Homo sapiens: one gene and its partners. The protein of the gene in region 4 purifies or fractionates together with the protein of the main gene of each other region. This does not show direct contact. Each region holds a gene or a part of one and is shown on either strand. Other genes may lie near its edges.

Region 1 (6,776 bases), on a different chromosome or scaffold from region 4:
CAGAGTCGTCTTTCAGGTGAGTCTGGGGAAAAGTACCTGCCGATTCTGCGGGGCTGCAGAGCCAGGTGTTTCTCAGGAGGTTAGGAATACCTCCTTTAGTCACCAGCGTCCATGCCTCCTGAAGCACAATTACTGTTGGGGAGAGGTGGTTTGACTGCCATCTTGTGTAGTTTTGACTCGACAGGTATGTGAGAGCTTCTTCTGCAGCCCACAGTGACCGAGCATTCACCAAGCACCTGTTCTGTGCTGGTGCCTTATGGGTGGGAGAGAACTAGGATACGGGCCCTGCCATGAATTCCCTAGAGCTGTGCTGTTTCAATGCAGTGTGGGAAGGAATGGAGCCAGGGTTGGCCCAGGAGCTATAGCAGCAAAGGAAAGCCTCTTCCGCTGCTAGGGCTGGGGGCTGGGTGAATACAGGGAGACCTTCTCTGAGGTCCTTAGATACATCTAAGATGAGTCTTGAAGTCAGTGGACAGGTAGAGTTCCATCAGGGCCGGGCGTGAGCTGTCAGGAGGCTTCATGCCCACATGGGCCTTTGTCACTTCAGTGCCTTGTCCAAACTCCCTGTCGTGGATACCCGCTGTGCCCTCTGGGTCCCTCGGTCAGCATCAACCACTACTTCCCTAGGCCAGCCCATCGTCTGTGAGCCCAGTGGCCTGTCTGCATGTGTTCGTCCGCTTCCCACACACATTCCTGGCCCCTCAATTGCACGTCCTCCCATTCTTGTGAAAGGGCAAGGCCTAGAGTATGTTTCACGGGGGCTCGCAGGAGCCAGCCCTTCGATCCCAGATGTTACCCTTTCTGTGACACAGCCCCTTCCAGACAGACCCAGATAGAAGACTTCTCCACTGAGCTGGCTCTCTGTGAGGATGGGGGCACTGCTGTGTCCCCAGGCCCAGGATGAAGCCTGATGCTTGGTAGATGTTCAGTAAATGTTGAGTACATGAAAAGGCAACAAACATCTCCCAACCCCTTGGAGAACTGAACATGGGCCGGAAGAGGGCAGCCTTAGCCACCTGAGCCAGTATTTGGGTCGCAGGTTTTGGCAAGCTCGGGCTGTGGAGAGTTTCCTCCGAGGGACCACCTCCTATGCAGACCAGATGTTCCTGCTGAAGCGAGGCCTCTTGGAGGTATGATCTGGAGCAGCCAGTGTCTTGGGTTCCGTCTCCCCCCAGCCCACGCGTTGCTGTGTCCTGTCCTGAGCCCCAAACAGTTCATCAGGAGCAGAGCAGATCTCGTGACTTCCAAATGCCTGTGCAGGCTGCCTTAGATTTTGCCCTGGGTTTCCAACTGTGGGTTCCCCATGGGTGCTTACGGGGTGACAGGTTTAGAGGGTGGCCAGGCCATGCAGGAGGGTGACAGTTTGGTTACCCAGCAAGGCATTTTGACCCTGAAGATATTTTGTACTAAAAGTTAATTTTCCTTTATTGAATAATGGTCTTCAGAAAAAGTAAAACTTAGAGCAGAATGGCCAAAGTTATAATTGGTCTTTCAGATTTTTTCATATGGACAAGAAACTGACCCACGAATTATAAAATCCATGTGGAAAAGAATTGATCCAAATCAATGTAACTTCAAGAAAATGTAGAAAACTTTATAAAGGAGTAAATTGGCTTTATTCTCTTGATGAAAACTCAGTATTTTGGTGTAAACTCTATTTAAACAATTTCGTTCATAAACACAAAGACAAACCATGGGGTCAAAATGTGTCCTTTGCTTTTAAATTCTGTCCTTCATTTACTTGAATGACCTCAGTGCTTAGGCAGTGGCCTGTGTTTTAGACCTGGTGATGACAGCTCCCCTCACCTAGGAGCTGAGCACCCCGGCCATCTTGGTGACCACAGAGCAGGTCACAGGCTTCAGCTGTACGCCCTGGGCAGGGGAGAGATTGTGCTGCATTCCCAGTCTGCTCCACCTCCTGGTGAGGTCTGTCAGGCCTGGTCCTGTCCTTGGAGCCACCAGCATCCTCAGACAAGAATCTAGACAGTGTTGCCAGTTCCATCCCCAGGATGCTTGCTCAAAGCCAATGCATGGTCTGAGCTCCATGCCAGGCCCTGGTGGGGGCAGCCACGTTGACACCTTCACCCTGTCCCTCCTCACCCAGCACATCCTTTACTGCATTGTGGACAGCGAGTGTAAGTCAAGGGATGTGCTCCAGAGTTACTTTGACCTCCTGGGGGAGCTGATGAAGTTCAACGTTGATGCATTCAAGAGATTCAATAAATATATCAACACCGATGCAAAGGTAAAGTTAACCCAGGGCTCTGTGGAGTGTGCTGGGTTGTCCAGAAGTTCACCTGGAGTCCTGGTCTGCCAGGCTTTAGGCACAGGTTTTACGTTAGAGACGACGGGGGAGTCTGGGCAGTCTTTGGCAAACATTCATTGGAACCTGCTCTGTCTGGCTTTGTGCTAGACCCTGGGAATGCAGGGATGAAAACCGGGGCTGCTTGTGGGTAGGGAGTGAGGGTGGGAATGGGTGGCTTGTGCGCCTGCCGTGACGCAGCATGGTGGGTGCCACGGTGGGAGCCGCTGTAGGGAGGGACTGGGCCTGGTGTGTTAGGCTCACCGAGTGTGTGTGACAGAAACCCAGCTCAGGCTAGCTGAAGTAAAATTAAAAGTAAAAATTAAAGGAATCCAGCACCCTTGAGCGTAAAACCACTGGAGAGAGTGTCGGATCTGTGCTGAATTCCGGGGAGTGCCTCTTAGTACCTGGGTGGTGAGGGGAGGTCCCTCAGCTTATCTGAGCCTCTGTCTTCCTATCTGAAGCAGTGGGGCTGGTAGAGGTCGCTGATGCCCCTTGTAGTGACTATCCCCCCGGGCCATGGCCATACCTGGCCAGCAGCCCACTGCCTGCTGTGAGCTTGGTTTCTGTATAGTTCCAGGTATTCCTGAAGCAGATCAACAGCTCCCTGGTGGACTCCAACATGCTGGTGCGCTGTGTCACTCTGTCCCTGGACCGATTTGAAAACCAGGTGGATATGAAAGGTACATGAAAGGCAGGCTGTCAAGGCAAGTCATGCAGGGTAAGAATGCTGGCATCAGACACCCTGTCTCCAGCAGGGAGACAAGAATGACTGAGGGAGCTGCACCAGATGCCCACGTGGCCGGCCTCAAGGTGGCGGCTTCCAGGGCAATTGGCTTTGCTGCCTTGTTCAACACTTTAATAAGGTGAAAATCCATTGTTGCTAGCAAGATGCAAAGAAAACCAGAAAAAGACCTTCCTCTTCTGGGCTGGTATTGCCTGGCACGATGAGTTGGCCCCCTCGTCCTCAGTGTGCTGTGCGTGGCATCGCAGGTGCCCTGTGGTGCAGCAGGCATCTGAACCCTCCTGGACTTGCTAACGCACTTCCATGTGTATGCGCACGCGTTTCCTTTTTTTCCTAGGAGAGGGCTTGTGGCATCCAGCAGATTCTCCTGAGGGTTTGTGACCCCCCCACACCCCCAAAAAGTCAGGCACTTGTTCCTTGTCACGGTCACTGTCATTGATAGCAAGAAGTATCCCGGTTGTTGGTAATTTAGCCGTTTGCTTCCTTTTTCTGCCCCAGAGGGTCTGTTTCAGGGGAACAGCCACACAGATTTTGGTACCTTCGGTTATTGCCCTGCCTCCCAGTTGTGCGGGAAGCAGTTGCTCCGACACTAGTGGACGGAGCAGAACCTGTGCCTTGTGGTCTCAGCACTGGGCCGGACTCACCTGAGAGCTGGTGTGGAAAACCAGTTGCGCTAGGACCTCTGCAGAAGGAGTGGAACTTTTGCGTTGTTTTTCTTAATGCAGCGTCATGGATCCATCTTCCTGTGGAGGGAACTCTTCTGTGTGTGATATGGAGGGCACGGGTCTGGAGCCAGTCTGGGGAGGGCTGAGGGAGAGCTGCCCTGAGCTTGGTTCTGGAGGATGAGGTGGGGTGCTCCTGGGCACTCTGAGAACATGGCTTTGCCTGGTAGCAGGACAGCTGGAGGTCCTTCTTTCTGCCACAGTCAGCTTTCGTTGAAGCTGTTTTGATGATGAGCTCCTAGCTTCAGAGTCAGGACCCAAGCGGGGCTCCACGAAAGGCCTGGGCGACCCAGCCACTGGGCCTAAGCCTGACCTGCTGCACCCCTGCCTCCCTCCACAGTTGCCGAGGTACTGTCTGAATGCCGCCTGCTCGCCTACATATCCCAGGTGCCCACGCAGATGTCCTTCCTCTTCCGCCTCATCAACATCATCCACGTGCAGACGCTGACCCAGGTGAGAGGCCCCGGCAGACACACAGCAGGGAAGGTCGATTGGAAACCACTTCCTTTGTCCTGGTGCCCAGCAGGTTTCTGTCCCCCACTCCAGAAGTGCGTCTCTGGAGACCCAGCTCTTCTGAGGACTGTGCTCAGGAGGAATCAGTGTCCCATTGTACAGACAGGGCCTAAGGAAGGAGGGCTCGCAAGTGCCCTCAGGTCACAGGCTGACTTGCAGGCCAGTGCTCTCCCCGCCTCCCCCATGTCCACGTCCCTCACACCTTCTGCCCTGCTGGGCTTTGGAATCGGACCTGAGGCTGCCCAACTCCCTCACTGAATAGTCATGCAGCCTTCCCTTCTCTGAGCCTCCTGCCCCTCTTTTCTAGAGTGAGGGTGATCTTAGCACCTCTCAGAGGTGGTCTTTGGTTCCGTTCTGAGGTGAAGCACCAGGTGGGAGTGCATGGTGAGTGGGGCAGAACTCTTTCCCCACCGAGGCGCGCAGGCTAGTGCTGAATGGCACTTCTGAAGCGGGATAACCGCCCCAACACACGCACCCAGCCCTGCCTGGGACGGACCTTCCGGAAGGAGTGATGCTTGAGCCCAGGTCTGGACAGGGACAGGTGTTGTTGCCTCAGGTGGGGTGGGAGGTGGGCGTGGGGAAGAGGAAGGTGCTCAGTCAGGAAACTGGGGCTGCTGGGGGCCCCCTTCCCCCAGTCCTATCTCACCTCTGTGCAGGGAGAGCTCTGTGGGTGGCCCGAGGCCTGGGGCCACTCTCCTCCCTGCCTGATGGCTACCCAGGTTCACCAGGGGCCACTGGGGCTCCCACCAGCCCCTGACCCTGTGGGCCTGTGGCCTTGCAGGAGAACGTCAGCTGCCTCAACACCAGCCTGGTGATCCTGATGCTGGCCCGACGGAAAGAGCGGCTGCCCCTGTACCTGCGGCTGCTGCAGCGGATGGAGCACAGCAAGAAGTACCCCGGCTTCCTGCTCAACAACTTCCACAACCTGCTGCGCTTCTGGCAGCAGCACTACCTGCACAAGGACAAGGACAGCACCTGCCTAGAGAACGTGAGTGCCCCACCCTCAAGGGGGTGATGGGTGGGCCGCGGACCCAGGGCCTCTCAGAGGGGTGTCCCGGTGCTGGGCTTGACCTGGGTCCTCCAGGCGCCCCCCAGCCCCTCCCTCTTTGCCCAGAGCTCCTGCATCAGCTTCTCATACTGGAAGGAGACAGTGTCCATCCTGTTGAACCCGGACCGGCAGTCACCCTCTGCTCTCGTTAGCTACATTGAGGAGCCCTACATGGACATAGACAGGGACTTCACTGAGGAGTGACCTTGGGCCAGGCCTCGGGAGGCTGCTGGGCCAGTGTGGGTGAGCGTGGGTACGATGCCACACGCCCTGCCCTGTTCCCGTTCCTCCCTGCTGCTCTCTGCCTGCCCCAGGTCTTTGGGTACAGGCTTGGTGGGAGGGAAGTCCTAGAAGCCCTTGGTCCCCCTGGGTCTGAGGGCCCTAGGTCATGGAGAGCCTCAGTCCCCATAATGAGGACAGGGTACCATGCCCACCTTTCCTTCAGAACCCTGGGGCCCAGGGCCACCCAGAGGTAAGAGGACATTTAGCATTAGCTCTGTGTGAGCTCCTGCCGGTTTCTTGGCTGTCAGTCAGTCCCAGAGTGGGGAGGAAGATATGGGTGACCCCCACCCCCCATCTGTGAGCCAAGCCTCCCTTGTCCCTGGCCTTTGGACCCAGGCAAAGGCTTCTGAGCCCTGGGCAGGGGTGGTGGGTACCAGAGAATGCTGCCTTCCCCCAAGCCTGCCCCTCTGCCTCATTTTCCTGTAGCTCCTCTGGTTCTGTTTGCTCATTGGCCGCTGTGTTCATCCAAGGGGGTTCTCCCAGAAGTGAGGGGCCTTTCCCTCCATCCCTTGGGGCACGGGGCAGCTGTGCCTGCCCTGCCTCTGCCTGAGGCAGCCGCTCCTGCCTGAGCCTGGACATGGGGCCCTTCCTTGTGTTGCCAATTTATTAACAGCAAATAAACCAATTAAATGGAGACTATTAAATAACTTTATTTTAAAAATGACTGCTGTGGACCTGGCTTTTGTCCCTAGGACTGTGTTTTTCCTCCTGAACCCCAAAGAAAAGAATGAGAAGGAAACTGGCTGTGGTGTTTATTCAGGGCCCAGGGAAGGCTGAAGGCAGCAGGGGGCGATGCAGAGATGGCAGGATCGGGGCAGGTGGCCTCAGCCAGATGTGCAACAGCAGACATTCCTCTTTAGAGCCCAGGGGGTCAGGCCGTCACTCCTTGTGCTGAGGAGAAAGGGATAGCTGAGTGAGCAGTACTACCTGTCAGCCCCCACAGTCCCCCTGCACAGAGAGCAATGCCCCTGCCACTCCTCACCTTGGGGCCCAGGGCGTCCCGGGTCCGTGCCCGCAGCTTGTTGGCCTGGGTTTCCGCCATGTCTGCCCGCTCCTCCGCATCATCCAGCTCGTGCTGGGCCTTGCGATACTTGGCCAGGTTGGTGTTGGCCTGCTGCTCCTGGGGGCACACACAGGGCCTTGGTTCCGCTTGGGTGACTGAGA
Region 2 (5,343 bases), on a different chromosome or scaffold from region 4:
TCTTTGTTTTGTTTCTTCATGTGCCTCTCCTCCCTTCATTCCTCCCCTGAGCTACAGCTACATTCAGGGACCAGGCTTGTAAAACTGACTCCCCACTTCTTCCCACAGGTTCCGCCAGGTGCGGCTGAAACACCGGAAGCTCCGGGAACAAGTGAACTCCATGGTGGACATCTCCAAGGTACTAGGATCCCGTGGGAGGAGGTCTTGAAGAAGGGGGAGGTTGGGGCCACAGGGAGGGAAATCTGGCCCTAGAACAGGGAACCTTGGCAGGGGCCTGGCACACACAGCCTGTCAGTAAAGGTCTGTGGTTGAATGAAGGAAGGAAGGAATGAATGATGCAACACAGAGCTTCTTACATTCATGAAAGGCACAGATCCCTTACAAACTGAAAAAAAAAAAATTGCACAAAGAACCCCAGTGTTTGGTTTCAAATTATCTTTATTGTTAAGTTACTTACATGTGGACGGATATAAAATTCCTTCCAACTACAGCTCATACAATAAAACCAAAGCAAATTTACAAACCAAGCCCATAGACGGCAAAACCAATACAATTAAAATGAACAACACTGACAAGGACACAGGTGACATTGTTTCCGTAAAACTCAATCTCTGCTGCTCTTGTGGAGGGGTACTCAGGGCAACAGGGACGTCCATGCAAGTTTGCCTGGCCAAGGCGTGACTCAGCTACCCGCCCCCTTCTTCTGCTGAGACCATTTGATTTCGCCAGTGCTTAGGGACAATGATGTCACAACACCCCCTTGGCCTGGCTCACAGCATCTTCTGCTTATCTGGTGGCCTTTGCTTTTTCTCGTTAGCCCACGACAGTTCAAACAGTGGCCCCTGGCAGCAATGCCATGGTAAGCACGGTCACAGATGCAGGCCCCAAAACCGCATGGCAGGTCTCAGTGACGAGGCAGTGGCCCAGATCTGCAGGAATTGGCAGGTGGTAATTTCTGAAGGTTATCAAGCCAAAAACACAGAATTCAAGAATTTCCATAGAAAATCCACAAACCCTCAGGGATCAACTAGTGAATCCTAGCCAGAGAATGCAGTAAAAGACTATGTGGATTTGGAAGTCAGGCATCATCCATGCTAGAAATATCTAATGAGCACCTGCTATGTTCTAGGTCTTATTTCAGGAGCTGCTTTGGGCATGTCATTTAACTGTTCCATGCCTGTTTCCTCAGCTGTAAGACAGGAACAGGATTCCCACTCCCTGTGGCTTTTGGGAGGATTTTAAACCATATAGGGAAACACCTGGGCAGGTAGCTGGGAAGTGGTAGGTGGTCAATACATGGTAACAGTTATTGTCGAGGGTAATCCTCAGAGGACCATAAGGATGTGGTCAATATTGGTTCCATTGCCTTACGCTATGGAGTAGGTGGGGGTCGACCCCAGCCCCGACACCTCTGATCCTCTCCTCCCACCCAGATGCACATGATCCTGTATGACCTGCAGCAGAATCTGAGCAGCTCACACCGGGCCCTGGAGAAACAGATTGACACGCTGGCGGGGAAGCTGGATGCCCTGACTGAGCTGCTTAGCACTGCCCTGGGGCCGAGGCAGCTTCCAGAACCCAGCCAGCAGTCCAAGTAGCTGGTGAGGGGGCTGGGACTTGGGCAGGAAGGCATCCTGGAGGAAGGGTTCCTGTGGCCAGCACCCTATGTGGCTAAGGGGGCGGGGGATGGCTGGGAGACAAGGCCGCCTTTTCTCATCAGCTCTGGCACTGTCTGGAGGAAAGGACTCAGTTCGGGGCTGGACTGGCAGTGAAGGAAGATGGTGTACCCTCTCCCCTTCACTGACCCTTGATGGCCTTCTCCCTCTTTGCTTGGTCTCTCTCTCTCTCTCTGCCTGTCCTGGGCACATTGTCTGGCTGTCCATCCAATGTCTCTGTCTAAATGCCCTCCTGCCCCCTGGCCTCGGGGCCCGGAAACACCTGCCCCCTGTCTCCCACTTCTGCCCACCGGTTTCTGTCTGCACCTCGGTGTGTCCCACTCTCACTCTCCCTCTTCCTGGCCTGCCTCTCCATCAGTCTCTCTGTCTCTCCAGGACCCACGAGGAGGAACCAGGCTACTTTCCCCAGTACTGAGGTGGTGGACATCGTCTCTGCCACTCCTGACCCAGCCCTGAACAAAGCACCTCAAGTGCAAGGACCAAAGGGGGCCCTGGCTTGGAGTGGGTTGGCTTGCTGATGGCTGCTGGAGGGGACGCTGGCTAAAGTGGGTAGGCCTTGGCCCACCTGAGGCCCCAGGTGGGAACATGGTCACCCCCACTCTGCATACCCTCATCAAAAACACTCTCACTATGCTGCTATGGACGACCTCCAGCTCTCAGTTACAAGTGCAGGCGACTGGAGGCAGGACTCCTGGGTCCCTGGGAAAGAGGGTACTAGGGGCCCGGATCCAGGATTCTGGGAGGCTTCAGTTACCGCTGGCCGAGCTGAAGAACTGGGTATGAGGCTGGGGCGGGGCTGGAGGTGGCGCCCCCTGGTGGGACAACAAAGAGGACACCATTTTTCCAGAGCTGCAGAGAGCACCTGGTGGGGAGGAAGAAGTGTAACTCACCAGCCTCTGCTCTTATCTTTGTAATAAATGTTAAAGCCAGAAGTTGCCATTTCTCTCTAAACATATCTACACTCCTAACTGGCAGACCGTCCAGTGGAAGACTGTTGCCTTGTCTGAACCTGTCTCAGAGGCCTTCTCCTGTAAGTGCCCTCCCAACTCTGTAGGCTGGGCAGTCCTCAGCAACAGTCCCCTGCCCAGATCTGAGGCAAAGAGCAACAGCTTTGAACTCAGACAGATCAGGGTCCAAATCCTGGTTCTACCATCCACTGGTGGTGTGATCTTGGGTAAGTGGCTTCACCTCTGAACAGTTTACCTCACCTGTGAAATGGGACTGCCTCCCCATGGAACTGCTGTGAAGATTAAAACATGGAGTAGCCCAGAGGCATTTAGTAGGAACCAAATATGTGAGAGAGAATCTTTTTTTTTTTTTTTTGAGATGGAGTCTTGCTCTGTCACCCAGGCTGGAGTACAGTGGCGCGATTTCGGCTCACTGCAACCTCCGCCTCCAGAGTTCAAGCGATTCTCCTGCCTTAGTCCCCAAGTAGCTGGGATTACAGGCACCTGCCACCACGCCTGGCTAATTTTTGTATTTTTAGTAGAGATGGGGTTTCACTATGTTGCAGATGCTGGTCTTGAACTCCTGGGCTCAAGCAATCTGCCCGCCTCAGCCTCCCAAAGTGCTGGGATTACAAGCGTGAGCCACTGTCCCTGGCCAAGAATCATTTTTATTATTGTTTTTGATTTTCACACACAATGCGTGGCTGCCCTTTTTCTGATTTTTTGTTGCTTTTCTCCCTCTATTCATGCCTTACCAGAATCTAGATGACAACTCACTCATCAAGAGACTAACAGAGGCCCCAAACCTCCCCAAACCACCCACATACCCGTTTCACATCCGCTCAAGAGAGGATGTGAAAGGGAAGGGGGCAAAGGAGGGGGGCTGGCACTTCCAGAGGCCCTACTGTGTGCCCAGCTCTGTTTATAAGTCACCATAACCACTCTCCTGACCCTCGTTACCCCACTGCACAGATGTAGAAACCGAGGTTTCAAGAGGAGCCAGGCCTCCCCTCAGGCCCCCAGCCGGAAGCTAGGAATACGGGCTGGAGAGCCCAGATTCACACCCATCCCGCCCCACTGCAAGGTGAGTCAGAGGCAGAGTGGCCTTGGGCCACAAACCGAGGACTGACTTCCCGCCGCAACTTCATTCCAGCTTGAGAGGCTGATTCATTCTTGCTTCCCTCCTCTTGAGGGGAAGATCAGGCTGCGAGTCATCCTTTTCTGTTGAGCTATCTTTGGATTTCCCTTAAAGTCCACAGCCAGCCTCGCCCCTTCATCCCTGAGAGCTAAATTGGAGCCTCCGCCACCCACTGCCACGAACTGCCCTTCCTCTGGAGGCCAGCCCACCTGGGGAGTAAAGGCGGGGACTCAAGAAAGGAACTGGATGAGACCTCCAGATATTGCTGACACCCTTCCCCTGCAAGAAGCTCTCCTGGCAGTGTTGCCAAAGCCCCTGCCAAACTCATTCTTCTGGGACCTCTCTTTCCTTGCCTCCACTCCCTTTTAGCTGGCAAACACTCCTTCCTACGCCTCCTGTAGGCCTCGGCTAATATGTCCCCTCCTCCAGGAGGCCCTGTCTGATACTCCTATAGCCTCATAAACCTATCCCTATCACGATAATAATATTGGGTCTGGCCAGGCATGGTGGCTCACGCCTGTAATTCCAGCACTTTGGGAGGCCGAGGCAGGCAGATCACCTGAGGCCAGGAGTTCGAGACCAGCCTGGCCAAAATGGTGAAACCCTGTCTATACTGAAAATACAAAAATTAGCCAGGCGTGGTGGTGTGTGCCTGTAATCCCAGCTACTCGGGAGTCTGAGGCAGGAGATCACTTGAACCCAGGAGGCGGAGTTTGCCGTGAGCCGAGATCGTGCCACTGCACTCCAGCCTGGGTGACAGAGCAAGACTCCATCTCAAACAACAACAACAACGACAACGACAACAAATTAGCCAGGTGTGGGGGCACACACCTGTGGTCCCAGCTACTTGGGAGGGTAAGGTGGGAGGAACACTTGAAGAGGCTGGGAAGTCGAGGCTGCAGTGAGCTGTGGTCGTGCCACTGCACTCCAGCCTGGGTGACAAAGTGAGACCCTGTCTCAAGTAGTAGTAGTAGTAGTAATAATAATAATAATAATAATAATAATAATAATAATAATAATAATAATAATGGGTCAAGCACCACGCTAAGCCCTTTTAATAAGTGACCTCACAAAAGGAGGCAAGGTAGGCAATGTTGGTCCCATTTTACAGATGAGGTAACTGCCCGAAGCCATAGCAAAGCAGTTTGGAGCCAGGATGTGACCCAGGCAGCCTGACCCCAGAGCCCCAGCACTTAGCCACCTGGCGCATTCAGACACTCAGGAGACCATCACATTGTATTTTCATTTTTGTTCATGATTGCGTCTTCAACACCAAGGGCCTGACATAGACAGGGCCTCAGTGAATGTCATTAAACGAACCCTCTGAATGCCTGGGATGGCCTGAAGCCACCCCATGTTGGTTTCAGCTGAGCCATCCCATGTTGATTTCAGCTGAGGCAAGGTCAGAACCAGTGAAAAGGGGCTTTTGACTAAGAACCTAGGAGAACATACAAGAGATCCTGTGTTCTGAATTATCTTGGATCTGCCCTGGCCCGCCTGCCCTCATTCTCCACTGTGGGGCTCAAGCCTGGATGCCCCCACTTCTGGCAGGTTTTGCACCCCCCTCACCAAATCAACACTT
Region 3 (6,372 bases), on a different chromosome or scaffold from region 4:
ATTAATGTATATTAAGAATTTGGTGAAGATCATTTTGAGGAGAATTTATCAATATTTTCCTTTTCCTTTTTTTTCCCTCCAAAATCCATGGTTTTTATACTTTCTAATTTTGACCAGTAGTTCAACTTTGGTGGACATTAAACCTAAGGAAGAAAACAATTTTAAACTGTGAAACAATCAAAACCATATTGAGTACTTGGTGTTTAATCATGTAAGTGACCTGAATCTTGTGTACAATCATTTCATTTCTTCTAAGCTGTACCTCTCATTTGATATACAAATAATCAATTTGTTCTTTTTTAAAAGAAAAAATATTTTATTTGCTTCCTTGCTTGTTTATTAATAGAAGGCAACATGAATTCCTAGAATACCTTCCAGAACTTCTAGGATTTTGTAAACTACTATTTAGAACCTAAGCTAAGCTAAAGACCAAACTTTTTCACATTGTATGCAGGGCCCTTTATCACCTTCCTTTTTATCCTCTTCTTTTACGTTGATTCCTGTATACCAGTTGGGAGCTTTAGCCACTCTTGAACTCCTTGATGATCCCTGATGTTTTGTGCTTTTTTTCATTGCTCCATGCTTTTGCCTGAAATGGCCTTCTCCCAGCCTCCCCCTCCCAGCCACCCCGCTTTTTTTTATGGAGAATCTCAAGATTAAGCCAGAGAAGACAGACAAACCTAGTACAGGATCTCATCTGTTAGGTCTTTTCTTGCTGTCCTCTCTGCTTCCCAGTGGGTAGTGCTTTGTTGGTTTCCAAGCTCTTGGTACACACCTGTATTGTAACAACTGTTAGATTGTTGTAGTTCTTTTATGTGCCTGCCTCAGCATTGTCAAGCTTTTCTAGGGCTAGCTGTCTGCTTCACCTCTGCGTCTTCTGTTCTCGGAATAGTATTGGGTTCATAGTAGGAGTTCACTATGTAGATTTCAAAATGATTGGATAACATTTTAAAGTTGAGGGCTGTTTGTACTGGGCAAGATGGACCATGATATTAACTTTCATATTTGGTTCCTCTTGAATTGCCCTGTTTATTTGTGTTTTCTTATAATCTCCACTGTGTTCTCTCATATGTCTCATTTTCTTGTGTTTTCCATGCTTTCTGGCTTTGCTACTTTTGTTACATTTACTTCTGTGCTTAGTGCTTTAATTGAAGATTCATTCCTGAAAAAAGACACAGCAGCTAAAAGAGCATCAATATATGTGACTGACACTGCATCACAAAAAAACATACACTGTTAATTACTTGAAATAGTAAAACATGTGCTCAGGTTCCTTAAAAATAGATCTAAGTAGAAATATATATACATACATACATTTTATATAGCTCCTTCAACATATTATAAATTGTATAGTAGAGCACGTAAAATGTGCTATTAAAATGTTAAAACCTAGAATAATTTTTGAGAAATTATGCAGGTAACCAGGTCTTGACAAAAAAATGACAAAAAACACAAAAAATGGGAGATAAATTTATAGGAGGCTTATTTATCTCTCTGGTGATTATAGGCATTTAAAGTCAAATATCAGGGCCGGGCACGGTGGCTCACGCCTGTAATCCTAGCATTTTGGGAGGCCGAGGCGAGTGGATCACTTAAGGTCAGGAGTTTGAGACCAGCCTGGCCAATATAGTGAAACCCTGTCTCTAACTAAAAATATAAAAATTAGCCGGGTGTGGTGGTGTTCGCCTGTAGTTCCGGCTACTCAGGAGGCTGGGGCAGGAGAATCACTTGAAGCCGGGACGCGGAAGTTGCAGTGAGCCAAGGTCACGCCGCCACTGCACTTCAGCCTGGGTGACAGAGCCAGATTCCATCTCAAAAAAAAAATTAAAATATCAGCAGTCATCCAGATTATTGATTATATACCTGCTATATGCTAGATGCTCATTGGGGGCAGGTCGGTGGTGGGGAGTTGGGCAATAATGAATAGGACAGTGGCCTTTGTAATTCCTGACTGGGGCAGAGGAGTGGACAGCATACAAACAGTCACAATGCAGTCAGATAAGTCAAATGGTGAATGGAACAAAAAGGATGGAAAACCAGTTTGGAATTATGAAATGCTTTCAGATAGGAAGTAGCCATTGATGAGATTTCTGAAGAGTGGGAATTTGCTCTTGAAAACAGCATAGTATCTGTTGCAGATAGTGTGGGCCAGGGATTTCATGGTGGTTGTATATTTATGAAAATGATTACCTCTTAAGATATAAATACTAGTAGGAAAGGTGAATATCTGAGTCTAACGTGCTGTTATTGAGTTTGTTTTGCTGAATTACTGAATTCCAGTTAGTCTAGAGTGCTACATTTTAGAAATTACCTGAAGCTTTTTTAGTTAGCATTCAGTTTGTGTCGTGTATGAAGATGATAAGAATGGAATTGGAGATGTAAATTAAGTATTGACTAGAGGTAGTGCTGAAATTTGGTTTGGTGAAAGATGGGGGAACTCCCTACATTTCCATCTACTGTTAGAAAACTGATTACCTCAAAAATTGATTAGGAATCATTGGGTTGTTGAAAGACAATAATTCTAGTATGCTAAATTAAATGTAATGTTAATTTCACTGTGGCATAACTAGTCTCAAATCTTTTTTTAAAATATAACTCCATTAAAAGAAGATAAAAAGATTTGAGATTAGTTATGCCATAGTGAAATTAACATCATTAAATCATAGACAAGAAATTATAGATTAAATCGTTATTTAATCATTCAGTCATAATTATTCAATCATTTATAAAATCTGTGATTTAAATAAAGAATAGAGTAGAAATTTACTTAAATTTGTTTTGTTTTGTTTTGTTTTGTTTTTTGAGATGGAGTCTTGCTCTCTTGCCCAGGCAACAGTGATGTGATCTCAGCTCATTGCAACCTCCGCCTCCTGGGTTCAAGCGATTCTCGTGCCTCAGCCTCTTCAGTAGCTAGGATTACAGGAGCAAGCCACCATGCCTGGCTAATTTTTGTATTTTTAGTAGAGATGGGGTTTCACCATATTGGCCAGGCTGGTCTCGAACTCCTGACCTCAGGTGATCTACCCGCCTCAGCCTTCCAAAGTTCTGGGATTACAGGTGTGAGCCACCGCGCCTGGCCTTAAATTTATTTAAATCATAGATTTGTATTCTGAGGTAGGGAATATCTTTGAAATATGTGAAATAGGCTGGGTGCGGTGGCTCACGCCTGTAATCCCCTCACTTTGGGAGGATGAGGTGGGTGGATCACCTGAGGTCAGGAGTTCGAGACCAGCCTGGCCAACATGGTAAAACCCCATCCCTATTAAAAATACAAAAATGAGCTGAGCGTGGGGGCATGTGCCTATAATCCCAGCTACCCGGGAGGCTGAGGCAGGAGAATTGCTGGAACCTGGGAGGTGGAGGCTGCATTGAGCTGAGATCATGCCGCTACACTCCAGCCTGGATGACAGAGTGAGACTCCATCTCAGGCAAAGAAAAAAAAAAAACACGTGAAATATTTTTTGTTTGTGTTTAAGATGCAGAAGATAAATGTGTAATAGAAGGCAACAACTGCACATTTGTTCGTGACTTGAGTAGAATTAAACCTTCACAGAACACAGAAACATTAGGTAAGTGTCTTTCTGTTTACTTGATCCTTTCTGGATTGAAACAGGCTTTCCTCTGATTGTCCTTGTTTTATTTTCTTACAGAATTACTACTGAAGGAATTTTTTGAGTATTTTGGCAATTTTGCTTTCGATAAAAATTCCATAAATATTCGACAGGTAAATAATGTTTTACTATTTAGTTATTAGTATCTGGTCTTCCACTGTACTAATATTTAATTAACTGTTTTCAAAACACTCTAATAAATGTTATTTATTTCTTTTGTGTAGTAATTTGTAGTAACAAGGAGGTTGATGTCCAGAGAAGTTACATGACTTGACTAAGATCAGTCATCCCTTTATGCCAAATAGTAAAAGCCAGCTCTTTAGCATCTGCCTTGTTATTATGCCATGGGACTTCTGTCCTCACTTAGTGTAATACTGTATCCCTCATGATGTGGAATACATTCCAGAAAGTTTCCTGAAAACTATTATTTACATACAGCTGTTTTTAAACTGGATTTGTGTCTATGGAATAAACTTAAGTCCCAAAGATAGATTTCAGTGATTCCCTCAATTTGAGCCCTTAGGATTTAGGTGTTTTTTTGTTTTGTTTTGTTTTGTTTTGTTTTTTTTTTTTGAGCAAATGAACTTACGATTTGGATTTCTGAGCAGCTGGGATGAAAGACATTTTTTCTTTTCAAAAAGAAACTCAGGCAGAAGTCTAGACAAAATTTGTTTGCAAGTGGGAGATAACTTGGGATAGCCCTCTGTTTGGGTTTATTCTGTTTAGCATTTGGCTACTTGATTACAAACCTTACAAGATTGGCTTCATAAAACACAAACCCAGATATACTTTCTCCTTATTTCTTCACCTCTCCGTTTTTCATCCTTCCCTCTTACCTGCTCATGGACTCTTTGTTAAAATAAAAGATTGGGGAGAGGAGAGAGAAAGGATTCATTCGGAAAGCTTTGCAAATGCTATCTAGAAGGAAAAAGTCATAAGCATACAAAGTTCGTCACCTTTTTTGTACTCCAAAGCTCAGAGATGCCAAGCATGAAATAAGTTAGGGAATATAACAGCTGCTGCTCACATCAGGGAATTTTGACCATTGGCTTTGTAATAGTTAATTAAGTAAATTTATGGTATCATTTGAAAGAGGAAAAGATATATAGACTAATGGCTTATGTTAGTCATATGATTCATAGCTTTAGCTTTTCTTTTTCTTTTCTCTTCTTTTTTTTTTTTTTTTTTTTTGTTTTTGTTTTTTGAGACAGAGTCTCACTGTATTGCCCAGGCTGGAGTGCAGTGGCATGATCTTGGCTCACTGCAGCCTCCGCCTCCTGGGTTCAAGTGATTCTCCTGCCTCAGCCTCCTAAGTAGCTGGGATTACAGGCATGCGCCACAACACCTGGCTAGTTTTGTATTTTTAGTAGAGATGGGATTTCACCATGTTGGTCAGGCCTGTCTTGAACTCCTGACCTCAGGTGTTCCACCTGCCTCGGCCTCCCAAAATGCTTGGATTACAGTTATCTTTTTTATTTCTGTGAGATACTATCTTATGTGGCAGAGCCCTTTTGTTGGATCTATAGGAAGATAATGGAAACTTTTTAGTGTTTTAAATAAATAATGAATAATCCTTTGTTCCTCCTCTTTTTCCTCATCTCATACTTGGGAAACATTAATTAATATATTTAATTTAAGGGTTCTAATTTTGTGTGTTCCTGTTTCTACCATAATAGGTATGCTTTTAGCAAGTCTCAGAAATAAACGTATCTTCATCTTACTTTCTGATTTTTTAATCATTTTTTTCCCTTTCATGCTCTACCTTGTTAGGTAAAAGTTATATTATTTTAAAAATACTTTTGTCGGTTGAGTTAGTCCAGATACCTCTTCTCTGAGCAATGACATCATCATCCATAGATGATAAGCCCTAAGTTATTTCTCCAAAGAACACTCATAAAACTTACAACAGGGAAAAAAAAAACAAAAAATGAGAAGTACACACACCCACCATGCATACATACTCAATCCCCTGAGAAAGAAATTCTTTGCTATGTAAAGTTAATGCTGGTGTTTTATGTGTTTTGACATTTTATTGAGTTAACTGTTTTTATATTTAAGCCCTTCATGTACTTACTCATTTTTTCTTCTGTGTAATAATCTATAGGGAAGGGAGCAAAACAAACCTGATTCTTCTCCTCTGTACATTCAGAATCCATTTGAAACTTCTCTCAACATAAGCAAAAATGTAAGTCAAAGCCAGCTGCAAAAATTTGTAGATTTGGCCCGAGAAAGTGCCTGGATTTTACAACAGGAAGATACAGATCGACCTTCCATATCAAGTAATCGGCCCTGGGGGCTGGTATCCCTATTGCTACCATCTGCTCCAAACAGAAAGTCCTTTACCAAGAAGAAAAGCAATAAGTTTGCAATTGAAACAGTCAAAAACTTGCTAGAATCTTTAAAAGGTAACAGAACAGAAAATTTCACAAAAACCAGTGGGAAGAGAACAATTAGTACTCAGACATGATGGCTGCTACATTGTGTAAAGAACTGGGCTTAGCCTATCAAATGGTCTGTGGACTTACTTGGAAAAACTGATTTGAAACTTTCACAGATCTCAGCTTTCATCTGATGTCACTTTTCATGATCTTCTCATTGGCCCCCTTAACCTGGTCTGAAGTTCTGGGATGTTTTCAGTTTGATCAGTCTGATACTCAGTGGCACTTTATTAAAACATCAGCTGTGGAGTGTGGCGGTGCACACCTGTAGTCCCAGCTGCTCAGGAGGCTGAGGCAGGAGGATCTCTTGAGCCCAGGATTTT
Region 4 (3,949 bases):
GCGTAGTTAATGCCACTGAACTATGCGCTTAAAAATGGTTGAGATGGCTGGGCACGGTGGCTCATGCCTGTCATTCCAGCACTCTGGGAGGCCGAGGCAGGTGGATCACCTGAGGTCAGGAGTTTGAGACCAGCCTGGCCAATATGGTGAAACCCCGTCTCTACTAAAAATACAAAAATTAGCTGGGTGTGGTGGCGGGCACCTGTAATCCCAGCTACTTGAGAGGCTGAGGTGGGAGAATCGCTTGAACCTGGGAAGTGGAGGTTGCAGTGAGCCAAGACTGTGCCACTGCACCCCAGCCTGGGCAACAGAGTGAAACTCTGTCTCAAAAAAAAAAAAAAGGTTGAGATGGTTAATTTCATGTTATGTGTGTGTTTTACCACAATTAAAAAACAATGCCCACTGGCCAGATGCGGTGGTGGCTCACACCTGTAATCCCAGCACTTTGGGAGGCTGAGGCGGGCAGATCACGAGGTCAGGAGATCGAGACCATACTGGCCAACAAGGTTGAAACTCCATCTCTACTAAAATACAAAAAAATTATCCTGTCATGGTGACATGCCCCTGTAGTCCCAGCTACTCAGGAGGCTGAGGCAGGGGAATCGCTTGAACCCAGGAGGCGGAGGTTGCGGTGAGCCAAGATCATGCCATTGCACTCCAGCCTGGGCAACAAGAGCGAAACTCTGTCTCAAAATAAATAAATAAATAAACCAAAAAAAAAAAAAACAAAAACAAACAAAAAAAAACAATGCTCTCCTGCACACCTACCTCCTGGGGAGAATGGCAGGGCCAGCACCCTTGACAGGAACGTGCCCCGGCTCCATGCCTCTGGATGTGGTGCGGCAGCACATGCAGTTCCCCAGGGGGACGTGAAAGGAGGCTGTGTGAGGATGCCAGATGGCAGAGCTGAGGCCCAGGTACTATGACGAGGCAGGAGGAGGGGGCCCCACAGCTCATCCTGCCCCACGCACCTCACTCAGCCCTGGACGGGGCCAGGCAGCAGCAGGCGCTACTCCTCCTACCCATCTGCATCGCCCTCGCCTTCTCTCTCACCACGGTGGTCAGCAGCCACTGGTGTGAGGGGACCCGGTGGGTGGTGAAGCTGCTGTGCCAGGACCTGCCAGGAGGGCAGCACTGCGTTCACTTCAAATGGGACAAAAGCAGCGATGGCAGGATGGACGACAACCAGGCTGTGCTGTACATTTGGGAGCATTTTCCTGTAGTTAATATTAGTGTGTCTGCATACTGAAAGTTAGGATTTAAGCTATGTTGATTGAAATTTTCTTCCCACTTAAACTATTGTCTTCTTAAAGACAGGGAACATGTTAACATTTCAGTCAGACATAGTTAAAAAGACTAATCTAAACAAGAACAAGACACTTTCCAGCATCACTACGGTATGATACAGTTTCTTAACTTCCCTGAGCCTTCGTTTATTGTTTTTTACCTGTATGCAGAGAAATATAATGTATGCTCTGCTTTCCAGATATAGATATTATAATGATAAAATAAAATAATACATATAAAAGAACTTTGCTACCTATAAGATACCATGAAAGAAAGATGTTTGTTTATTACTACGCTTTCAATAGCAGTTTCTAACAAGATGAAAAGGAGAGTGGGGAGAGAGAAGGGAAGAGGGAGAGAGAGGTAGAGGGAAGGGGGAGAAGCAACAACTTACTGCCTTATTTTTATAAATGTAGAGAGCATCATAATTCTGTAAACCACTGTTCTAAGCCAGTCTCCTCAATGGGGTAAAAGAGGATGATCAGGGAATTGAAAATGTGGGAGGTTTTGGTTATCATAGTATCTGGAAAGTGTTATTGCATTTATGGGATTGGGTAGCTGCTATGCTAAACTTTCTGTAGCCTGCTGGATACTAACACACACACAAATTACCCCACCCAAATGTTATTGGCAAATAGCTAAGCCTAGCAAACATTTTTTGAAAAACTTTTCTTTTCCTATTTGAATTAAATAAGTTGAATCACACACCAGTACATGTATTTTCAAATTCAGGATGAAGAAAAACCCCCAGCATTTATGATATACCAAATATAGTCCTACTGGTATGCTTATATGATAAAGTATTTTATAAAATGTAATGTAACCTATCAAATTATTTATTTATATATATATATATATATATATAAAATGTAAAGGCTTTTATAAACATTTAACATAAATGTGTTATGGTGCTGGCAAAGTGTGGTGGCTCATACCTGTAATCCCAGCTCTTTGGAAGGCTGAGGTGGGAGGATAGCTTGAGGCCAGGAGTTCGAGACTAGCCTGGGCAACAAAGCAAGACCCCATTTCAATTTTAAAAATATGAATTTATTATGGTGCTATGTAGGTCTAACATTATAAGATGAATTATCTCTATTCCGTCTTAATATTTGAGATAGTGTAGGAATATTTTCATATCAATGTATTAGAAAGTTCTGGTGAGAATATACTTTACTAGAAGTGCAGCATTGTGTTTAAAAAGAGAAAAACAAGTAAGATTTCTCATATTGTGCCCCAGGCAACTGTAAAATTTTCTGTAAAATTAAGAAACAAGACTATTTCCGCTCAGTATTATTTAAGGTAACTTTCAATCACAGAGGGATGAATCCAGTTGTCTTCATACTAGAAAGATCTCTGCAATTAAAAATTAACCCCACTCCCAAAATCATTGTTGAAATCAAAATATTGATTACATACCATAGACTCGAGTCATTCGCCTTCCTCTGCATTTGAACAGTGCAAGACGTCTTCTAAATAACCTTGTGGGGAGGATGTTCAGCTTTTGCGACTCCACAGAACAAAACTATCTCTCATGGTTCTTATTGCAGTTTACGTGAGTCTTTCCCACGCTGTAAGCAAGTAAAGTATCCAAATGCACCATTTTATCAAGCGCTCCATGGTCCAGAGGCAGGATATTTTGAAAGTTTGTGGCTAAAGTTGTGGCTCTCTAGTTCCATCCTAATCTAATTTTGATAATAGGACCTTACAGTTTCTAGTACTTGTAGAAAAAAAACCTAAATTAATTCATTTTCTTCTTGGATTCCAGTAATTGTTTGGGATTTGTCTTCTACCAGTTGCTTTTGAGAAAGATATTGATTTCTGGATTTCTTTAACTAATCATTGCTTTCAAGAAAAGCACTGCTCATGTCCATGCAGTTCACACCTATTTTTACAGTGATTCAGTCTGGAAAGTGAAGAGGCAGAATATAAATGTTAAAGAAATATTACTAATGGTAGATATGGTAATATCATCAGTTCAGGAGCAACTTTGCTTAGTTTGTCCTTTATGTGCTCTACAGGTTCAATTTAATTGAAAGGGGGAAAGGAGTAAGAATCAAAGTTTTGAATTTACACACATGGTTTATTCTTTTAATATATGACATTTTGATTAAAATACTTTCATTTCTGTCAAATCCAACATTACTTAGAGCCAAGTTTAGTTTTTTGGAAAACTTGCAAAATCAATCTTCTTCCTTCCTTTTTTATGTGCAAATCATGGGAAGATAAAATTCAAATAAAATGTTTCTAGACATAGTGACTTGATAATTTCTTTCTGTTTGGTAAATTGATCTTTCATGTTTCCCCACAGGATATAAAATTTCCAGAAAAATATATAAGATGGTATGAAGCTATGAAGCTGATTAAATATGGTATGTAGCAAATAAATTTAATTAATTCAAAATAATATTCATTTCACCATATCCAAGGCTGGGCCTACATGGTAAGTGCTTGCTACATTTATTCTCCAAATTCTTTCTTGCAATGCATTTGCCTTATTTACTCCTTTCCTTCCCATATCCACAAAACATAGTTTCTCTGTGGATAGCACATTCATGGCCTGATAAACAGCTTTCTAATACAATATATAACCTCTCTGTAAACATTTTCTTAAGCCCATGACCACTCTATAACATTGTAAGTTCTCCAGCTGATAAATGGGAAG
Region 5 (6,372 bases), on a different chromosome or scaffold from region 4:
GATCAGCCTGGCCCAACATGGTGAAACCCTGTCTTTACTAAAAATACAAAAATTAGTCAAGCATGGTGGCACGCGCCTGTAATCCCAGCTACCCGGGAGGCTGAGGCAAGAGAATCACTTGAACCCAGGAGGTGGAGGTTGCAGTGAGGTGGAGGTTGCACTACACTCCAGCCTGGGTGACAGAGCGAGACTCCGTCTCAAACAACAACAAAAACGCTACTTATCCAGGCATTACGCCCTAAACGTGGGAAACTAAGTAAAGTAACGGTAACATCAAGGCTGACTGACAAAGATGCACAGATGACCACATGACACTAATCTGCTGGGATCTAGACTTCTCTGAGAACGCAGTTTCTTAAACAAATGCAGCATTTTCCAATAGTTTCGACTAAAGAGAATGCAGTAGGAAACAACTGTTTACAGAGGCAAAAATAAGTAAATGTATATTAAATGTATGTATTATGTATCAACAGACAAACATGTCACAGGGAAGTTCAGACACCTATTCTAACGTGTCCACCCTGAAGTACTTCTTCCATCCAGAAACACCACTTTTTTCAGTTTAATTCACCTGCAATAGAGACTCAAGTAACTGAATCTACTTCCACCCCAAGATTACACACAGCAGGTAATTCAGTATCAATGTTCAACAGAAACTTGCCCTAAAGGAGACAGGTAGAAGAGCCGTCCAGCCCCAGCCCTTTCTCTGGAGAAAGTCGGTCACCCAAGCTCAGTGAGTGAAGAGTTTGTTTCAGTACTTGGCTCCCACCTTGGGTTTTTCCTTTTTGTCTCTGTTCTCTGACTTGGGAGTTTTGTGGGACAGGAGAGTCTGAATTTCTTTCCAGTCTTGGTCTAGCTTCTCCGTGAGCTCGAGGGCATCTTCTCGTTGAGCTTGTCTCTCCCTCTGGGGAAAAAATAACAGACACACACCACATACCGTTACTACTGGACTTCAACCCAGAGGCCCAATGTCAGTGCCAAGGACACACACAGTGATCACTCAGTTGGCACCAAACGTTTCAACACAGAAAAGAGGCCAGGAGAAATGAGTATTTTAAATGCAAAGCTACCAAATCTCATCAGACGGAAATCTTTTCCTGCCATAAACCATTAATTTAGATGCTCTGAGCAGTTCACTGCAAATGAATAAAAAAGTGATTTTTTGGGCACATGTCAGATACTAAAACCAGCAACAACAAAAAACCCATCCGCGCCAGGTGCAGTGGCCCACCCTGTGCTTTAGAACTAGGCCAAGGTGGGAGAACTGCTTGAGCCTGGTCGACACAGCACGATCCCCATCTCTACAAAAAGTAATTAGCTGAGCATGGTGGCGCCCACTAGCTACTTGGGGAGCTGAGGTGGGAGGATCACTGGATCCTTGAGCCCAGGAGTTTGAGGCCACAGTGAGCTTTGATCGTGCCACTGTACTCCAGCCCGGGAAACAGAGACTACGTCTCAAAATAAAACAAAACATAAACCAAAAAAAGGCAAAAGAACCAAAACCTGTCCGAGGTATATGCTTTATGTGATTTTTAAAATTCCTACTCACAATAAATGCTTTTACTGAACTCATATAAAATATTAAACACAGCCTAAAAAGGTACAGGAAAAAAAAGCTCAAACACATTTTGGTGAGCCTGTCTTACCGTGGAGAAGATGATCAAGAACACTCACTAACCCACCTTCTCTTGTTTTGACTTGGCAATGAGCTCTTCAATCAGCTCTTTCCGGGACTTCGGTTTCTCCCGCTCCTCGCCTTCCTGTTGAGTCTTCTTGTGAAGGAGCCCACCGCCTCCTCCAAAGTGGGCAGCAGTCAGCTCAGCTGGGGGCAAAAGGCAGAAAACCCCACAGTGAAGCCCAGCCCTGGCGTGGGAAGTGTTTCCTGTAGCACTCTGCCAGTGCTTCCCCCATAGTGGTCTGGAAAAGTCCACATTTGAGAAAAAAATGCTCACACGCAACAGCCTGGCCTGAGACCACAGGCACAATGGCACTTGAGAAATACCCAAGGTAAGCCACTCTGAGAAAACCCAGACCCATTACACTCCCAACTGGCCGTAACCCAAGTGGCTGGAAACACCCAGCACCTATTTTTGATTGTGCTGGTTCTAGCGAAGACTGGCAAACCCAGAGCAAGCTGACTCCAGGGTCTTGGTGGGAGCGTCGCCCAGGATCAGTGGTGCAATCTGTGTCCCTCCCACCTCCCTGGGCAGGGCCTGGAGACTCTAGTCACCTGTACCACGGCGCCCCCTCTAGTCACCTGCACGCCACGGCGCCCCCTCTAGTCACCTCCACGCCACGGCGCCCCCTCTAGTCACCTGCACGCCACGGCGCTCCCTCTAGTCACCTGCGCCACGGCGCCCCCTCTAGTCACCTGCGCCACAGCGCCCCCTCTAGTCACCTGCACCCCACGGCGCCCCCTCTAGTCACCTGCACGCCACGGCGCCCCCTCTAGTCACCTGGACCACGGCGCCCCCTCTAGTCACCTGCACGCCACAGCGCCCCCTCTAGTCACCTGCACCACGGCGCCCTCTAGTCACCTGCACCACAGCGCCCCCTCTAGTCACCTGCACGCCACGGCGCCCCCTCTAGTCACCTGCACGCCACGGCGCCCCCTCTAGTCACCTGGACCACGGCGCCCCCTCTAGTCACCTGCACGCCACGGCGCCCCCTCTAGTCACCTGCACCACGGCGCCCTCTAGTCACCTGCACCACAGCGCCCCCTCTAGTCACCTGCACGCCACGGCGCCCCCTCTAGTCACCTGCACCACAGCGCCCCCTCTAGTCACCTGCACGCCACGGCGCCCCCTCTAGTCACCTGCACGCCACGGCGCCCCCTCTAGTCACCTGCGCCACAGCGCCTCCTGGCAATGAGGGGAAGGCCACTCGCCCAACTCACACCAAGGCAGTTACCTCCAGTCTCGGGGAATTAGGATCTCCCCAGGGAATGCGTTTTATAGCTAAGGGTCCACGAGAAGTCTTGAACAATGAAAAGAGCAAAGACAAAGGCACAGAGGGGTTAAAATAACTGGCCATTCTCTTCACGCCCGTGAAGCCGAGCAGTGGCGGGGCCTCCTGGTGTGCCGCAGATGGCGGGTTCTGCACCACATGCTTGCTGCCCTAATTCCTAAGCCTTTTACCCCCTGGATTAGCCAAATATCAGAAGGCAGCCCCAGGCTTTAACGCCTTAACTTTCACACACTGACAAGACAAAGCTTTGAGAGTCAGTTTTAGATTTGTACACCTTTGTTCTGAAGATGCTGGAAATGGGACCTACTTTAACTTACAAGAAATGTCAAGTAATTGATGTCATGACTGCAACCTTATAAATAGGGTTCAAGACAGTCAGACCCGAACTGAATCTTAAACTCTGTTAACATTATTTAAGGCCAAAATTTATCTGTTTCATGTTGTTATCTACAGATATGAGGCTCAATATGATTTTCCTCAAACTGCTATAATTCCACAGTAGGTAAAAGCTAAAGGAACTACATCAATGCCACTGGTACAAATATTAGGCTGGAATTGATAAAGTAGGGGGAGCAAAGTAGTGCATTCAGTGAGGCACCTGGAGTCAGTGAGGTGGGTTCTCCCCACAGCTCTGACTCTGGCATCGGGCAAAACACCTTATTTCTCTGAGCTCATGGGTAGAACGAGCTATTTTGAGGTTCAAATAAAATAATGGATATCAACATGCTTTCTTGGCCCATAAAAGCATCTATCTACACACCATCTTAAAGTTCTGAAAACTTAAAAAAAAAACAAAAATACATAAAAACTGTCACTTGTGAAATTTGTAGAGAGGTTAATGATCAGTAAAACTTTCATGCAATAACTTTCTCTAGTCTCTAAGAAGAGCAGAAGGTCTAACAATGAACAGACTCTCCCTGACTCCACGCCCACAGGCCCGTGCACAGCACCCCAGCCTCACCAGACAACGTTCCTCGATCCTCAGCATCGCTGTCACTGTCCACAATGTCATTATGCTTCTCGATGTCTGCCAAAGACTGGCCATAATGAGTCAATTCTTCATCTTCATTTAGATTGTAGATGCTTTTTTTCTCATGATGTCGCTGACAGAAGAGAAAAAAAGTTTCCTAAAATTACCACTTCCATTTCACAGCAAAAAAAAAAAGATAAGGTAGATATATATATTTCCATTATATTTGAAATATGACAACGAATCCTAAGCAGCCTTAAAGAGTATTTTGGGTCAACTAAGCAATGATTCATGATTCAGACAGAAATGAAACTCATGGAGGGTAATTCTTTTTTTTCCTTCAGACAGAGTCTCGCTCTGTTGCCCAGGCTGGAGTGCGGTAGAGTGATCTGGGCTCACTGCAACCTCTGACTCCCTGGTTCAAGTGATTCTCCTGCCTCAGCCTCCTGAGTAGCTGGGATTATAGGCATGCGCCACCACGCCTGGCTAATTTTTGTATTTTTAGTAGAGACGGGGTTTCATCACGTTGGCCAGGATGGTCTCGATCTCCTGACCTCATGATCCACCCACCTCAGCCTCCCAAAGTGCTGGGATTACAGGCATGAGCCACCGCGCCCGGCCTCATGGAGGGGAATTCTTAAATAAGCCCAGGGGCCAGTTTCCACTCCAGCAATGCTGCTCAGCTGAGAACTCCTGTGCACACTGCTGCCGTGTAGTAGAGTTAAGGCATTTATCCATTCAGCTAACATTTGCAGAAGAGGTTGCTTCTCCTTTGGCCTAGCCAGATAAGGCACAGGATTCGAGGGCTATCCCCTGGACCTTCCGAGTGCCCAGGAACATGCAAAACATGCAGAGTCAGCCTTCTCCTTGGCCTTGACTTCCCTGTGAAATGTACAGCAAAAACCCTCCTCCAGTTTCTTTCCATACCTGCTGTTCCAGAGCAAACCTCTTCATCATCTTCTCCTCGGGGCTCATGTTGCTGTTGTATTCTCCGAAGCGTTTATCTCTGAATACATTGGATTTATCCCTTTCTTTGTACTCTTTTAGTAAAGTCTGTGTACGCTGGAAAACAGGTCAGAAACAATCTCACAAAAAATTCTTGTGATTTCCACTACAGGGGACATCAGAACAGTGCATACTTTAAAGTTCAGGGCTATGCACAGTGATGTCAAAGTTCACACCCAATCTGCTTTCATGCACGATAGGCTTTCTCTACTAATCACAGAATTTTGAGAAGAGCAAAACAACTTTCAAGGATAATGGGGCAATCACTTTCTTTTCTTCTTTAGAGTCTACCGGTGCCAAAAGGAAGGGTAAAAAAGAACACACTAGTCAAGCTCAAGGCATGAATGGCTCCCTCGGCTGTAACAGCTGCCTTAAGGTTTAAAACGTGCACATTTGGAAAAGTGGAAATGGGTTTAGACTCCTTCCGTCATGGAGGAGGGTACTATTTCCCATCAAAGGTACTCCTAAGAAATGTGTAGTTGTGAGTTCATACTAGACACAAGGCAATAAACAAGTTAGCGAGGTCACAGTTTAGGGGCTTCACCTTTATAACACCAAGAGGAGCAATATTTTAAATACGGTTAGCAAGTATCAAATAATTTGGTTATTTTCCCAGCAGCAACAAAAAAAGACCAAGTTTAACAGTATTCAAAGTTGGCTGTCCTGGAGGTTGAATTCCCTAAAGAAAGCTGTGAGAGGACAGAGATGGGTGAGGAACGAGTGGCCTCTGCAACCTGAGATGGCCACATTGCAAACTCTTTCTTGCTGCGGAACTTCTTCTATTTGCTAAGGAACTGCCATTACACTGGTGTTTACACAGCAATTCCGAAAGGAAATGGCATCAAGGCAAAATCTTGATGCCATGGAAGGCCCTTGGAATGATCCAATTCAGTGGTTTTACAAACCCACCACAAATCGGTGCCTCGGCAGACATTTGAAACCTCTCATCTAACCCGACTTAAGTGTTCCTTGCCTTCCTCAGGGATTCCTCTAATTTGTGAAGTCACTTTGAAAGAATGCGTGCGTGTGGCAGGAGGGAGCGTGTGGTGACTTGGTCACTGCCACTCTGGTTCCAAGTTCTGTTTCAGGAGGGGACAGGTCAGATTTTGCTCCAGACATAGGTCACTTCCCCAGGGTCGGAGATGAACTTAAAGGCTAAGAAACCCAGATTTAAGGTCAAAACCAGGAGCTGGAAGAGGAGGAAAAGAGAGTGGAAGGGGTTAAGAAGCAGCTGGGCAAGAGCAGAAGATGCTCCAGCAGGGACAGAAGCACGACCTGGCCCTCCTTTCCATTTAGAGCACATTCCATCTGGAGAGGTCAACCGAAATATTAATCATGTGGACAGGAGAAAAGGATGTGAAAAAACCATTTCTCTTATCTCACTTTGAAATGTGAAAGTGCTATTATTACACTTAAAATGCATGAAAAAC

The links.
Region 1: the proteins of DCAF8L2 (region 4) and TRPC4AP purify together in Homo sapiens (affinity purification with mass spectrometry; one large-scale study listed by BioGRID and IntAct). This does not show direct contact.
Region 2: the proteins of DCAF8L2 (region 4) and KCNN4 purify together in Homo sapiens (affinity purification with mass spectrometry; one large-scale study listed by BioGRID and IntAct). This does not show direct contact.
Region 3: the proteins of DCAF8L2 (region 4) and MTPAP purify together in Homo sapiens (affinity purification with mass spectrometry; one large-scale study listed by BioGRID and IntAct). This does not show direct contact.
Region 5: the proteins of DCAF8L2 (region 4) and NOP14 purify together in Homo sapiens (affinity purification with mass spectrometry, with the first as the bait; one large-scale study listed by BioGRID). This does not show direct contact.

What each region holds. Positions count from the first base shown.
Region 1 is NC_000020.11:35,001,904-35,008,679, reverse strand, and holds the end of TRPC4AP (short transient receptor potential channel 4-associated protein), read left to right. Parts: coding exon 1-16; intron 17-812; coding exon of another isoform or gene 813-852; exon of another isoform or gene 853-1,032; intron 1,033-1,039; coding exon 1,040-1,130; intron 1,131-2,104; coding exon 2,105-2,245; intron 2,246-2,876; coding exon 2,877-2,985; intron 2,986-4,109; coding exon 4,110-4,222; intron 4,223-4,315; coding exon of another isoform or gene 4,316-4,540; exon of another isoform or gene 4,541-4,589; coding exon of another isoform or gene 4,590-4,640; exon of another isoform or gene 4,641-4,807; intron 4,808-5,063; coding exon 5,064-5,270; intron 5,271-5,396; coding exon 5,397-5,534; 3' UTR 5,535-6,276; downstream 6,277-6,776. Other genes in the region: MYH7B (myosin-7B), read right to left, coding at 6,492-6,521, 6,595-6,732. UniProt on the Homo sapiens protein: Substrate-recognition component of a DCX (DDB1-CUL4-X-box) E3 ubiquitin-protein ligase complex required for cell cycle control.
Region 2 is NC_000019.10:43,763,798-43,769,140, reverse strand, and holds the end of KCNN4 (intermediate conductance calcium-activated potassium channel protein 4), read left to right. Parts: intron 1-108; coding exon 109-178; intron 179-1,433; coding exon 1,434-1,598; 3' UTR 1,599-1,601; intron 1,602-2,051; 3' UTR 2,052-2,608; downstream 2,609-5,343. UniProt on the Homo sapiens protein: Intermediate conductance calcium-activated potassium channel that mediates the voltage-independent transmembrane transfer of potassium across the cell membrane through a constitutive interaction with calmodulin which binds the intracellular calcium allowing its opening.
Region 3 is NC_000010.11:30,313,315-30,319,686, reverse strand, and holds part of MTPAP (poly(A) RNA polymerase, mitochondrial precursor), read left to right. Parts: intron 1-3,476; coding exon 3,477-3,569; intron 3,570-3,650; coding exon 3,651-3,724; intron 3,725-5,715; coding exon 5,716-6,078; 3' UTR 6,079-6,372. UniProt on the Homo sapiens protein: Polymerase that creates the 3' poly(A) tail of mitochondrial transcripts. Can use all four nucleotides, but has higher activity with ATP and UTP (in vitro). Plays a role in replication-dependent histone mRNA degradation.
Region 4 is NC_000023.11:27,589,195-27,593,143, reverse strand, and holds the start of DCAF8L2 (DDB1- and CUL4-associated factor 8-like protein 2), read right to left. Parts: upstream 2,801-3,949; 5' UTR 2,704-2,800; intron 1-2,703.
Region 5 is NC_000004.12:2,952,742-2,959,113, forward strand, and holds part of NOP14 (nucleolar protein 14), read right to left. Parts: intron 5,000-6,372; coding exon 4,865-4,999; intron 4,071-4,864; coding exon 3,929-4,070; intron 1,823-3,928; coding exon 1,683-1,822; intron 905-1,682; coding exon 770-904; intron 1-769. UniProt on the Homo sapiens protein: Involved in nucleolar processing of pre-18S ribosomal RNA. Has a role in the nuclear export of 40S pre-ribosomal subunit to the cytoplasm.